2 separate regions of the Homo sapiens genome follow, and region 1 is linked to region 2. The links come from fine-mapping of genetic effects on gene expression. Tissue or cell type: breast. Region 2 holds a variant in brackets; the other region holds the start of a gene. All regions are shown on one strand. Distances are from middle to middle.

Region 1 (5,000 bases), 30 kb after region 2:
CACGGTATGTGTCTTTGTGTGACTGGCTGATTTCATTTAGTGTGATGTCTTCAAGGTGCATCCACGTGATAGCATAGGTCAGAATTTCCTTCCTTTTTAAGGCTGAATAATATTCCACCGTATGGATAGACCATAGTTTGTTTATCCATTCATGCATCCATGGATACTAGGGTTGCTTCTATCTTCTGGCTATTGCAAATGAATAATGCTGCTATGAACGTGGGTGAACATATCTCTGAGTCTCTGCTTTTAATTCTTTTGGGGATAGATACAGGAGTGGAAGTGCTGGGTTATACGCTAATTCTATGTTTAATTTTTGGAGCATCTCACCACACTGTTTTCCACAGCAATTGTACCATTTTCCATTCCCACCAAAATTGAGTGCACAGGGCCAAGCGCTGTGGCTCACACCTGTAATCCCAGCACTTTGGGAGGCCATGGCGGGTGGATCACTTGAGGTCAGGAGTTTGAGACCGGCCTGGCCAACATGGTGAAACCCCGTCTCTACTAAAAATATAAAAATTAGTCGGGCCATGGTGAAGCATGCCTGTAATCCCAGCTACTCAGGAGGCTGAGGCACGAGAATCGCTTGAATCCAGGAGGTGGAGGTTGTGGTGGGCCGAGATAGTGCCACTGCACTCCAGCCTGGATGACAGTGAGACTCCACCTCAAAAAAAAAAATTGAGTGCACAGGATTCCAATTTCTCCACATCTTCACCAACACTTGTTATTTTCTGTTGTTTTTTTTTTAAAAAAAATAGTAGCCGTCCTAATAGGTATTGAGTGGCGTCGTCTTGTGGTTTTAGTTTGCATTTCAGGCTCCATTTGACTTCGGCTGGTTTGAGGTGAGTTTCTGTTTCTTGTAACTGGCGCTAGTTCAGGTAGGCTCAGCAGCTGCAGAACTCAAAGAGATATGTTCACCCGCGTTCATAGCAGCATTATTCATTTGCAATAGCCAAAAGATAGAAGCAACCCTAGTGTCCATGGATACATGAATGGATAAACAAACTATGGTCTATCCATACTGTGGAATATTATTCAGCCTTAACAAAGGAAGGAAATTCTGACCTATGCTATCATGTGGATGAACCTTGGAGACATCACACTAAGTGAAATCAGCCAGTCACACAAAGACACATACCAGCTCAGCAGCTGCAGCACGGTAGCCAACAATAGCAGCTGTGGCTTGTGGAGAAGTTTATTTCTCCTTCTGTAACAGCCCAGGGCGGGTGCACCCGGTCTATGCAGCCCTACTCCCTTAGGGGACCCAGGCGGATGCTGCTTTGCTACCTTGACGTGGAGTTTCTGAGCTCGCTCTGCCGGTTGCCACCTGGGTCCCCAGGTGGGAGGGTGGAGCACCTGCCAGGATTGATGGGCTAAGGGCGGAACTTTCCCCTTGCATTCCATCAGGGGTATTTATCTTTTTTTTTTTTTTTTTTTTTTTGAGATGGAGTCTTGCTCTGTCACCCAGGCTGGAGTGCAGTGGTGCGATCTCGGCTCACTGCAACCTCCGCCTCCCAGGTTCAAGCAATTCTCCTGCCTCAGCCTCCTGAGTAGCTGGGATTACAGGTGCCACCATGCCCAGCTAATTTTGTTATTTTTAGTAGAGACGGGGTTTTGCCATGTTGGCCAGGCTGGTCTCAAACTCCTGACCTCAGGTGATCCGCCCACCTCGGCCTCCCAAAGTGCTGGGATTACAGGAATGAGCCACCGCACCCGGTCTCAGTTGATATTTCTAAGAATCTGCATAGAATAGACCAGCCGACCCTGGATCCTATCAGAGGGTGGAGGCTGGGAGGAGGAAGAGGATCAGGAAAAATAACTAATGCGTACTAGACTTAGTACCTGCGTGCTGAAATAATCTGTACAACAAACCCCAATGTCACGGGCTTACCTATATAACAAACCTGCACGTGGACCCCTGAACTTAAAAGGTTTTTTTAAAAAAAGAGGGTCGGGTACAGTGGCTCACACCTGTAATCCCAGCACTTTGGGAGGCCAAGGTGGGTGGATCATCTGAGGTCAGGAGTTCCAGACCAGTCTGGCCAACATGGTGGAACCCTGTCGTCTCTACTAAAAATACAAAAATTAGCCGGGCATGGTGGTGGGCGTAATCCCATCTACTCGGGAGACTGAGGCAGGAGAATTGCTTGAACCTGGGAGGCGGAGGTTGCAGTCAGCCGAGATCACACCACTGCACTCCAGCCTGGGCGACAGGGCAAGACTCTGTCTCCAAAAAAAAAAAAAAAGGGGAAGCCTGTTGCCCAAAAGGGCTGCTGTGGTACCTAAAAATGTGGGCTTTCTCCTTCTGGGAGGGGGTAGGAAGAAGTCGCCCCCACTCTCCAGGCCCACGGCTGCCCCGCCCCTGCTCACCAGCCGGCTGGCTGTGGCAAAACTAAAGCCTGCCCCGTGCCCTGAGCCCGGCATGTTGTTCAGCCTCTCTGAAATGGTCTCCTTGGATCATGGGCAGAGATGGTACGATGGGATCCCACCCGAGGGGTCCCGGCCGGTGCTCACGGGGCTGGGACCAGCTGCTCTTACTCTGTTTTTCTACCTTTCTCAGCCACTTGGAGGAAGAGAGAATTTTGTTACCTTTTACAGGTAAGGACGCTGAGGTTCACAGGATAAGTCACTTCCAGCCAGGTGTGTGTGACCTCAGATCCATACTCAGAGGGAGGTGGGCTGGGCAGAGCCTCCCACCTGCTCCCCTGGAGGCCCATGAGTCTGGGCACTGGGGCCCCAATTCCTATAAACCGGGGTTGATTACGGAGGACTCCCCTCACCTGCAACCCCGCCTCCCACCACAGAGCCCAGGCAGCAGGGAAGCCTGGAGACAGGCGCAGAGCCTCTGGGCCTGGGTGCCTACCCCTGCCCACCCCCAGGGCCTCAGGCCACAGGAGACCACCTAAAGCAGGAGCCGGGAGTAGGGCCCAGGCTGGGCTGGCACAGCTGGGCCTGTGAGGGGTGGAGGGGCCGCTGGGGAAGGGACTTACCAGCAGCAGCTCTGCTGGGACCTGGGAGGCTCTCCTCATTTCCAGTAACAAGCGGGGGTGGGGGCAGTGGGAGGGAGGAGGCGGCTTTCCCCAGGTGCCAGCTGTGCTTGAAGACAGCCTGTCCCCTCTGCTGTCTCCTGTTCTCAGCTCCTTAATCCCCTCCCCGACCTCGTAGTTGACTCCTGGGCTGACTCCTCCCCTGGAAGGGAAAGAAGAGCCGGGCTCACCCACACCCAACAGGTGCAGCAGCTGCTTGAGGTCACAGTTGCTGAGAAGGGAAGCTGAGGCCAGTGGCAGCTCCAGCCAGGGTTGGTGCAGCCTGCTGAGGGGTCGAGGTCACCCAATCACCCACCCAGCTCCACCTGCCCCCACCCCTCCCACCCAGCCTGGCCACCAGCCCAGACACCTTCCTCACATGGCCTGAAGACCCCTGCTGACCTGTGGCACCATGTGGCCCAGCAGGGTGGCCAGGCTGGCCGGGGTCATGGGGTGGGGGACGCTGCTCCCCACCTGCCCTGGGGTGGTCGGTGCTGTTGGGGAGGCCACTCTCTAGGGGCATCTGCCAGGTAGGCAGACCAGAAACTTACCCCGAGTTCTGTGACCCGCTCCGGGGAGCGGGGCATCTCATGTCCTCTCAGCCACGTCTGAAAGCTGGGACATGGCAGAGTGGGCAGGGCTGCCCTCTGAGCTGACCCCCTTCCCCTCCTCCCCATCTTGTCTCTCCTCAGATCTAGGGCTCACTCTGAGGCGTGGGTGACACTTGCCCCCCAACCCCAGCCTCTTCAGTGCAGGGAGGCAGGGCCTGAACTTCGGAGGGCCTTGGGGCAGGTTCCTGGGGCTTGCAGTGAGGCCTCCCCTTTCCCAGGGAGAGGAAGGGAGAAGCCGCGTCTGGCGAGGGAAGCCTGTACCCTCACCCTCACTGTGTCCAGATCTGCACCCCTAACCTGGCCTGGGGAGACTGGCACCAGGTGGAGCTGGTCCCCAAGGAGCCCCAAACCCCAGAACATCTGCTGCAGGGGTCAGCTCTCAGGGGGCCCCAGGGCCAGTCCTCTCTGCACCCCACCTTCCCTGCTCAATGTGGCTTGTAGGAGGTTATGCAAAGCATTATGCAAAGCACATGCAAATGAGACCCAACCACAACTGGTCACTCTCTCCAGGCAAGACCACTGAAGCCCTCTGGTCATCAGCAGGAATGCAGGGGCGCCTATGGCAGGCCGGACTCCAGGTCAGGCCTTGGGGCAGTGAGGAAGAAGGTGCATGCCAGGTAAGCTATAGTCAAAAGGGAGGGACACACACCACCAGGCGAATGAATGAAGCAAATCAATGGCACTCCTCCCTGCCCCAGAATTCAAAATGACAGACCGGTGCAGACAGATGCATGTGTGTTCTGAGAGGTGGTTGTGTACAAGCAAGCTCACTCCTTCAGTCTCCCATTCATTCACTTATTCTGCAAACTCGGTGTCTATTATGAGCCTGGGCTGTTCCAGGGGCTGGGGATATCCCAGCAGATGAAAATGCCTGCTTTGCAGGGCTCCAGTAGGGAGAGAAAGATACAGGTGACAAGTCAGGATGAGCAAGGAGGACACACCGGTGTATGTTCCAGAAACCATAAGGAGGCTGGAGCCAGGCACAGGGAGCCCTGGGCCTTGGGAAGAGTATGGTCTGTGCAGGGGCCATGTAGTGGGAGGGGGCCCTGCAACATCAACCCAGGTGCCCTGGGGAGGTTGTGGTGGAAACAGGCAGAGCACGGAGGGAACCAAGTTCCCCGGGCAGGAGATGCCAGGGGCTGCGGCCAGGGGTGGCAGTGGAAGGGCTGAGAAGTGGTCGGATTCTGGGTTAGGAAGAGAAAGCTGCCCTTTGCCCTCTGAAGCTTCGCCGAAAAATCAGCGGACAAAAGGCAGATTCATAGGAGAAAAGGCTCACAAAATTTACTGTAACTGCATAGCACAGGACTCCCCGGACGTGATTACCCAGTAATCCAGAGGGGTCCAGAACCTGCCATGCCCT
Region 2 (7,718 bases):
CCCTGCTGATTTTTGTGCTTTTAGTACAGATGGGGGTTTCTCCATGTTGGCCAGGCTGGTCTTGAACTCCTGACCTCAGGTGATCCACCTGCCTCGGCCTCCCAAAATGCTGGGATTACAGGCATGCGAGTTGCTGGCTTTCTTTTGATTCTCTGAGTTACCACCTTCTCCAGCACAGGACAGCAGTTCTGGGGCCCTGGGAACTCCTGTATACGGATCTTCCACAGTATGGATCTGGATTCTTCTAAGAGATGGAGGGACAGAGGGAAACTCCCCTTTGCCTGCCACGTGGACTCTTCTCCCCTTACACTCACTGCAGTCCAAGATTTCCACCGTCCCCTCCCTCCCTCCCTTCCTTCCTTTTCTTTCTTTCATTTCTTTCTTGAGACGGAGTTTCACTCTTCTCTGGTGCCCAGGCTGGAGTGCAATGGTGTGATCTCAGGTCACTGCAACCTCTGCCTCCCAGGTTCAAGTGATTCTCCTGCCTCAGCCTCCCGAGTAGCTGGGATTACAGGTATGTGCCACCACGCCCGGCTAATTTTGTATTTTTAGTAGAGATGGGGTTTCTCCATGTTGGTCAGGCTGGTCTTGAATTCCTGATCTCAGGTGATCCACCCACCTCAGCCTCCCTAAGTGCTGGGATTATAGGCATGACCCACCACACCCAGCCCATGCTGTGGTTTCTCATAGCTCTTCCTCTAGTCCAGGCCCCCTCCTGAGCTCTGTGCTTACATTCCTGGCAGCTTCTTAACCACCTCTTCTTGGGGTCTCAAAGTTAACAATCTTAAGCTAAAGTCTCTACTTTACCATTCTAAACAATCCTCCTTCTGGGATTCCTATTAAGGGCTTTCTAAAGCACTGATCTGACTGTATACCTCCCCTCTTTAATACACACACACACACACACACACACACACACACACACACACACACGCAGAGATTTATATACATATATACATATCCAGAATGAAATAGACAAAAATATTAATAGTTATTCTTAGATGATAAAAATACAGGTAATTTTTATTTTCTTCTTCTTCTTCTTTTTTTTTTTTTTTTTTTGAGATGGAGTCTCACTCTCTTGCCCAGGCTGAAGTGCAGTGGCGGGATCTCGGCTCACTGCAACCTCTGCCTCCTGGGTTCAAGCACTTCTTCTGCTTCAGCCCCCTGAGTAGCTGGGATTACAGGCACGCACCACCAGGCCTGGATACTTTTTTGTATTTTTAGTAGAGATGGGGTTTGCTATATTGGCCAGGCTGGTCTCAAACTCCTGACCTCAGGTGATCCACCTGCCTAAGCCTGCCAAAGTGCTGGGATTACAGGCATGAGCCACCATGCCCAGCCTCTTTATTCTTTTTAATATTATCACAAGTTATTTATTTATTTATTTATTTATTTATTTATTTTTTGAGATGGAGTTTTGCCCTTGTTGCCCAGGCTGGAGTGCAATGGCACGATCTCAGCTCACTGCAACCTCCACCTCCCGGGTTCAAGTGATTCTCCTGCCTCAGCCTCCTGAGTAGCTGGGATTACAGGCACATGCCATCATGCCTGGCTAATTTTGCATTTTTAGTAGAGACAGAGTTTCTCCATGTTGGTCAGGCTGGTCTTGAACTCCTGACCTCAGGTGATCTGCCCTCCTCGGCCTCCCAAAGTGCTGGGATTATAGGCATGAGCCACCGTGCCCAGCCATTATCACAAGTTATTTATACTTCCTTTCTCTTGTTCTTGATCAGTCTCATTAGAGGTTTATCAATTTTATTACTCTTTTCAAAGAACTATCTTTTGTTTATCTGGATATTTTCTCTTGATTTATCTCCCTCTTCACTAATTCTCTCTCCAGCTGTGTCTCATCTACTATTCAACCTATCTACTGAGTTCTTAAGTTATCATATTTTTCAGTTCTAGAATTTCCATGTGGCCTTCTTATAGTTCCAAGATTCCTGCCAAATTTTTTTTATCTTGACTTATAATTCCTTGAATATTTTATTTTTTATTTTTTTGAGATGGGGGTCTCTCTGTGTCACCCAGGCTGGAATGCAGTGGCACAATCTTAGCTCACTGCAACCTCCACCTCCTGGGAGGCTCAAGCAATCCTCCCACCTCAGTCCCCCATGTAGCTGGGTCTACAGGTGCCACATCTGGCTAATTTTTGTACTTTTAAGTAGAAACAGGGTTTTACCATGTTGCCCAGGCTGGTTTCAAACTCCTGGGTTCAAGCAATCTGCCTGCCTCGGACTCCCAAAATGCTGGGATTACAAGCATGAGCCACCACACCCAGCCTAGAATATTTAATTTAATTAATTAATTTATTTATTTATTTTGAGACGGAGTCTCACCGTCACCCAGGCTGGAGTGCAGTGGCGCAATCTTGGCTAACTGCAACCTCTGCCTCCCGGGTTCAAGCGATTCTCCTGCCTCAGCCTCCAGAGTAGCTGGGATTACAGGTGTGTGCCACCATGCCCAGCTAATTTTTGTATTTTTAGTAGAGATGGAGTTTCACCATGTTTGCTAGGCTGGTCTCGAACTCCTGATCTCAAGTGATCCACCCACCTCGGCCTCCCAAAGTGCTGGGATTGTAGGCATGAGCCACCACACTCAAGCTATTTATTTTTTTAGAGATGGGTCTCGCTCTGTCACCCAGGTTGGAGTGCAGTGGCATGATCACGGTTCACTGCAGCCTTGAACTCCTGGGCTCAAGTGATCCTCCCACCTCAGCCTCCTGGGTAGCTGGGACTACAGGCACAAGCCACTTTGTTATCTGGGTCACCTAAGGGTCTGTTTCTTTTTTTTTTTTTTTGGAGACAGAGTCTTGCTGTGTCACACAGGCTGGAGTACAACAGTGTGATCTTGGCTCACTGCAACCTCCACCTCCTGGGTTCAAATGATTCGCTTGCCTCAGCCTCCCGAATAGCTGGGATTACAGGCCCACACCACTATGACCAGCTAAATTTTTTTTTGGATTTTTAGTAGAGATGGGGTTTCACCATGTTGGCCAGGCTGGTCTCAAACTCCTGACCTCAAGTGATCTGCCCGCCTCTGCCTCCCAAAGTGCTGGGATTAGAGGCATGAGCCACTGCGCCTGGCCTCTTTTGTCCATTTTTTTCTCATTTTCAATCACATCTTGTCCCATTCTATACCTGGTTATTTCTGATTGAGTGGGGGCATCCCACATGAATAACTGTAGAGGAAATTGGAGGCTCTGGGAGACGTCACCTTCCTCCAGAGAAGACGGATCTTTACTTCTGGCAGGCAGCTAGGCCAGAGGCACCCACCACCCCAGATTGCCGTAATCAGGGATCACAGTGCTTCACAGCTGGCTTCACTTCTCACGATGGTCAGTCTACTTCCAATTGCCCTTACTCCTAGTGGGTGGCCCCTCAGGGACTCAACCCAAAGCTTGAGGGTTTTTTTGTTTGTTTGTTTGTTTTTTGAGACAGAGTCTTGCTTGAGGGACTCTTACCAGGGTCTTTCAGCAGGCCTTGAACTTCAGCTTCTGCCCTCAGCCCTGTGTGCCTGTGAAAAGTTCTGCTCAGTTCCTCAGCTCCCGAGCAGACGCGTCGAGGAAAAGTGTCCCAAATGCCAGGCTCACCTCTCTAGGTTCCCTCTTCTCCCAGATCTTGACCTCACAATTCATGACTGCCTTGCAGGCTCTTCAGTACTATCAGATTGTTTGTTTGTTTATTTGTTGAGACAGGGTCTCCCTCTGTCGCCCAGGCTGGAATGCAGTGGTGTGATCTCGGCTCACTGCAGACTCCACCTCCTGGACTTAAATGATCCTCCTACCCCAGGCTCCCACGTAGCTGGGACCACAGATGCACACCCCACCACGCCTGGCTTCATTTTTTTTTTTTTGACTGAGTCTGCCTGAACTACCCTAAGAGTTGCTAAAAGTAAGATTTACTCCCACATCATCTACAATACAGACATATTATTTTGTTAAGCAGAGTAATTTCTTTTCCTTTTTTTTTTTTTTGAGACGGAGTCTGGCTCTGTTACCCAGGCCGGAGTGCAGTGGCGTAATCTCGGCTCACTGCAACCCCCACCTCCCCAGTTCAAGCGATTCTCTCACCTCTGCCTCCCGAGTAGCTGGGACTACGGGTACGCACCACCACACCTGGCTAATTTTTGTATTTTTAGTAGAGATGGGGTTTCACCATGTTGGCCAGGCTGGTCTCGAACTCCTGACCTCAAGTGATCCACCCACCTCGGCCTCCCAAAGTGCTGGGATTACAGGCGTGAGCCACCATGCCCGGCCCTGAGTAATTTATTTTCTAAAAAGGAAAATACGTATTAGAGGACCACAAGATAAAATGGAAATCCCTCACCACGGCAGTTAAAGCCCTGACCATCAAGTTCCCATGTCCCTTTCTGCTTCCTTCTGACGTTTCCCTTCCTGAACTCAGGAAGCTGTAACTGGCCACGTGGCCCTGAAGAAAGGGCTCCTCTCTGACCTAGAGCGAAGGCCTGCCCCGCTGCCTCCCGAGCTCTGGTGACGGGAGCTGGAAGGGTGTCCTTCCTGTCCCTACACCCTGTCCCAGACACTGGAGGAATTCAGTGTGTGCTGACAAGCATGGGGGAGGTCCTAACCCTGAGTGTTGTGGGGGTGAAGGGGACCAAAGAGCCCCAGGAGCAGGTAAC[A/G]CCTCCTCTGCTGCCTGCTTGCTGGGAACACCTCCACTCCCTGCTTCCACCCCAGCCCGGGCACAGGGTCCCGGTCACTCCGTCCTCAGGACTCCAACGGCCTCAGCACAAACTCCCACTTCCTCAGCACCAGTTCAGTGTCCTACACCGAGACGTCGCGGTGCCACACGGAAGCACGGACTGCTCTGTCCATAGGAACAGTGGCACGCACGCCACGTGGCCAGTGTGGGCCAGCTCATCAGCACTCACGGCCCGCAACCCAGCCATGCTCACCACCACCATGTTCGTCTCCACGAAGGTGGGATCAACTGAGCAGACGGACAACACCAGCTCCTGGAGTCCTGGGCCAGGTCCTGAGGTGAGCAGAGGTGACCCCAGGCCCTGACCCTGACCCCATTGCCAGCAAGGTCACCCGGGAGGCAGGGGGCAGTTCGGTCACGGTAGGAGAAGGAAGGGCCCTGTGTCCTGACTTGGCCTTTGCAGTCACACAGACTGGGCTCTGCTGCGTTTAGCTATGTGATCTCAGACAAACCTATTGACCTCTCTGGGCCTCTGTTTCCTCATTGTGAAGTAGGGACATCATGGGATTGTTGGAGGACTCAGTGAGCAGATGGAAGACCCAGGTTAGAGGCTCTGCCAGACTCTGCAGAGCATCACAATCCTGGCCGTCCACCGAGGGCTTCCCCAGGCTGGACTCTGCGCTGAGTAGGGTCTGCTGAAGCAGCTGGTGCCCTGGGTCCCGCCCTAGTGACTCAATGGCCACCCTGAGTCCCAGGATCCAGAAGCCTGCAGGCCTGCTGGGGGACCCCCGACGGCACAGCTCAGGCCAAGTCAGAGGAAGCACAGGGAAGCGAGGGTGGGGCGTCCTGTCCAGGCACCTTGGGTGAATCTCTGGGCGTTCCCATGGTCTTGCCACAGTGCCTGCTTTGTGTCAACCAGTCCCACCAGGGCCACCGCAGCCAGCATCCCCACCTGGTGCATGCTTCCACCCAGGGCTTTTTGGAGGCGCCAGGCTTCTTCAATGAAGTCCTTGGGCCTCCCAGCCAGGGACCCCACTGGGGCGCCCAGGCCCTGGGAGGTGGAGAGGAGAGACTCCTGCCAGCTCACATCCCTGTCCTTGGGCCAGGGTGGGGACAGATGCGTAGCCCCATCTGCAGAGGTGTTAAAGGGGAACCTGGGGCCAGCTGCCAGGGATGGAGCTCAGGAATCCAACCCTGCCTCCTGCTGGGGCGCCCCACCCCACCTGTCTGTGGGAGGCCAGCCCAGGGCTTTCCCACCTTGGAGAGGCAGAAAGACACAGAGTCACAGTGCTCCACAATGTAGGTGGGCGGGACATGCAGGGCCAGCACCACGTTCATCAGCTGGGCCCTGTCCAGGTGGACCCAGGCCCCATAGGTCTGGGCCAGGAGGTGCACCTGGGGGTGAGGTGCAGGCAGAGTCAGAGGGGCCAGGCCTGAGGGAGGCATAGAGGGAGGAGGGTCCTGGGCTTAGCTGCCTGAGGAATCAGGAGGGATCAGGAGACCTGGCTGGTGACTGGCTCTGGTGATCTGGGACCCAAGCAGTCAGGCTGTGCTGCCTAAGCCTCCATGCTGGGCTCTGGGAGGATCTGGGGGTGCACATTTAACCCAGCTTTGTCGCACACTGAGCATGGGCCAAACGACCGTGGGCCAAGGGTAAATGTGTGTCACCTCATTTAGGCTGCACAACAACTCGAGGGAGACGCCGCTGCTCCCATTTCACAGGCAAGGAACGCAAGGCTTGGAGAGTTAGGCTGCTGCCTAACTAGTGTCTGGTAAACAGCAGAGCTCAGACACTGCGGCCTCCTCACCTCGCACGTGGGTGGCAAGGACCAGGTGGAGGGCACTCACACGAGCTTGTTCCTGCAGCCTCATGGGGCACACGTTTCTGCGCCAGGGCAGCAGGTCCTGGTGCTGCTCTGGGACTCAGCTCTGGGGACTTGGGGGTGGGGGCATCTCTGCTGTTGGGCTGGTGCAGGGACTAGGGGCCCTGACCTGGGGTAATAATTCCCTTTGTGTCTCAGCCTAGGACCACACATGTGTCCTTCCTGTGACAGGTCTGGCCGCTGATGGGTGCCCATGGCATAAATCAGAGGGGACTGAACCCCAGGATGGGCCAGGGGCACAGGAAGCCAGGATCAGGCTGGTGGGGGGCACACAGTGGTGGGGCTGGGCCTACCTGGCGTAGGTAGTTGATGGGGAGGATCCGGACCCCCGAGATGCTGTGTGAGTTCTCCAGGCAAATGAGCTCGCAGACCTGGTGGTAGGGACTCTGGAGGCCCCGCGTGATCATCCTCTCCAGCTCAGCCAGTCCAGAGTGCAGTGGGGCAGCTCTGGGAGGGAGTGGGAGTGCACTCCAGCCCTCTGTGGGTCAGGAAGAGGATGAGGGCTGAGGGGTCCAGGGGCACCTCTTGGCGGAGTGGGGGGCTCCTCTGGAGTAAGGAGCCAGACCCTGAGTCCTGTGTCTGCTCCCCCGAGGCCTGGGCCTTGGAGCCTTTCCTCTGTTCTGTGCATCTAGACAGACGTCCCAGCTGGGGGGCACTGGGCCCCTCCCCTATTAACTCTTCAGATGCTGCTGTCTGGCTCCCGTCGGGAGCGCGGGAGTGCTCCGAGTGTCCACTAGAGGGCACCAGGCACCAAGCACCGCCCAGGTGTCTGCCCGGCAAGCCTGGGGCCAGCCCCAGCCGCTGCCGCCCCCACGTGGCAAATCTGGGGCTCTGCTCTCCTTCCTTCCTCCCCTGGAGAGGCTGCCATCCCAGCCAGCTTCTCCATGGCTGTCCCTTTCTCCCCTCCGCAGGTCCCAGCCTGGTGCCTGGGAAGGGGGTTTGCCCCTGAGCAGCCTGTGCTGGCTGGAGGATGCCCAGGGCCCCAGGTGAGCAATGCCTGCTCCTTACCTGAGCCACCCCACCCTGCTCATAGACGTGGAGGTGGCACTCCTGCCCAAGGAGGAGCTGGGAGCCCCGGCGCCAGCAGTGACACATCACTGAGACAGAAGGAGGGCAGGTCTTGGCATTGAGTCTGGAGGCATGTGGCCCTGCTCAGCGTGGCTAGGCTGAGCCC

What was found. PIP is the estimated chance that this variant, and not a neighbour inherited with it, causes the effect.
Region 1: LINC01993 starts here. The variant in region 2 is fine-mapped to the expression of LINC01993 in breast (GTEx, PIP 0.97).

Annotation. Positions count from the first base shown.
Region 1 is chr17:78,275,451-78,280,450 of GRCh38, forward strand. LINC01993 (long intergenic non-protein coding RNA 1993) reads right to left here and starts at 3,042. Exons shown (of 7, transcript NR_073178.1): 1 at 2,994-3,042. RefSeq lists enhancers at 797-1,066, 1,297-1,346, 1,908-2,741, 2,742-3,575.
Region 2 is chr17:78,243,767-78,251,484 of GRCh38, forward strand. It overlaps LOC105371910 (a long non-coding RNA gene), which reads left to right and starts at 4,550. Exons shown (of 2, transcript NR_164160.1): 1 at 4,550-4,999; 2 at 7,456-7,718. It also overlaps the pseudogene THA1P. RefSeq lists a silencer at 2,709-2,909 and enhancers at 6,297-6,942, 7,124-7,173. The variant A/G (reference allele first, on the strand shown) is at 4,642.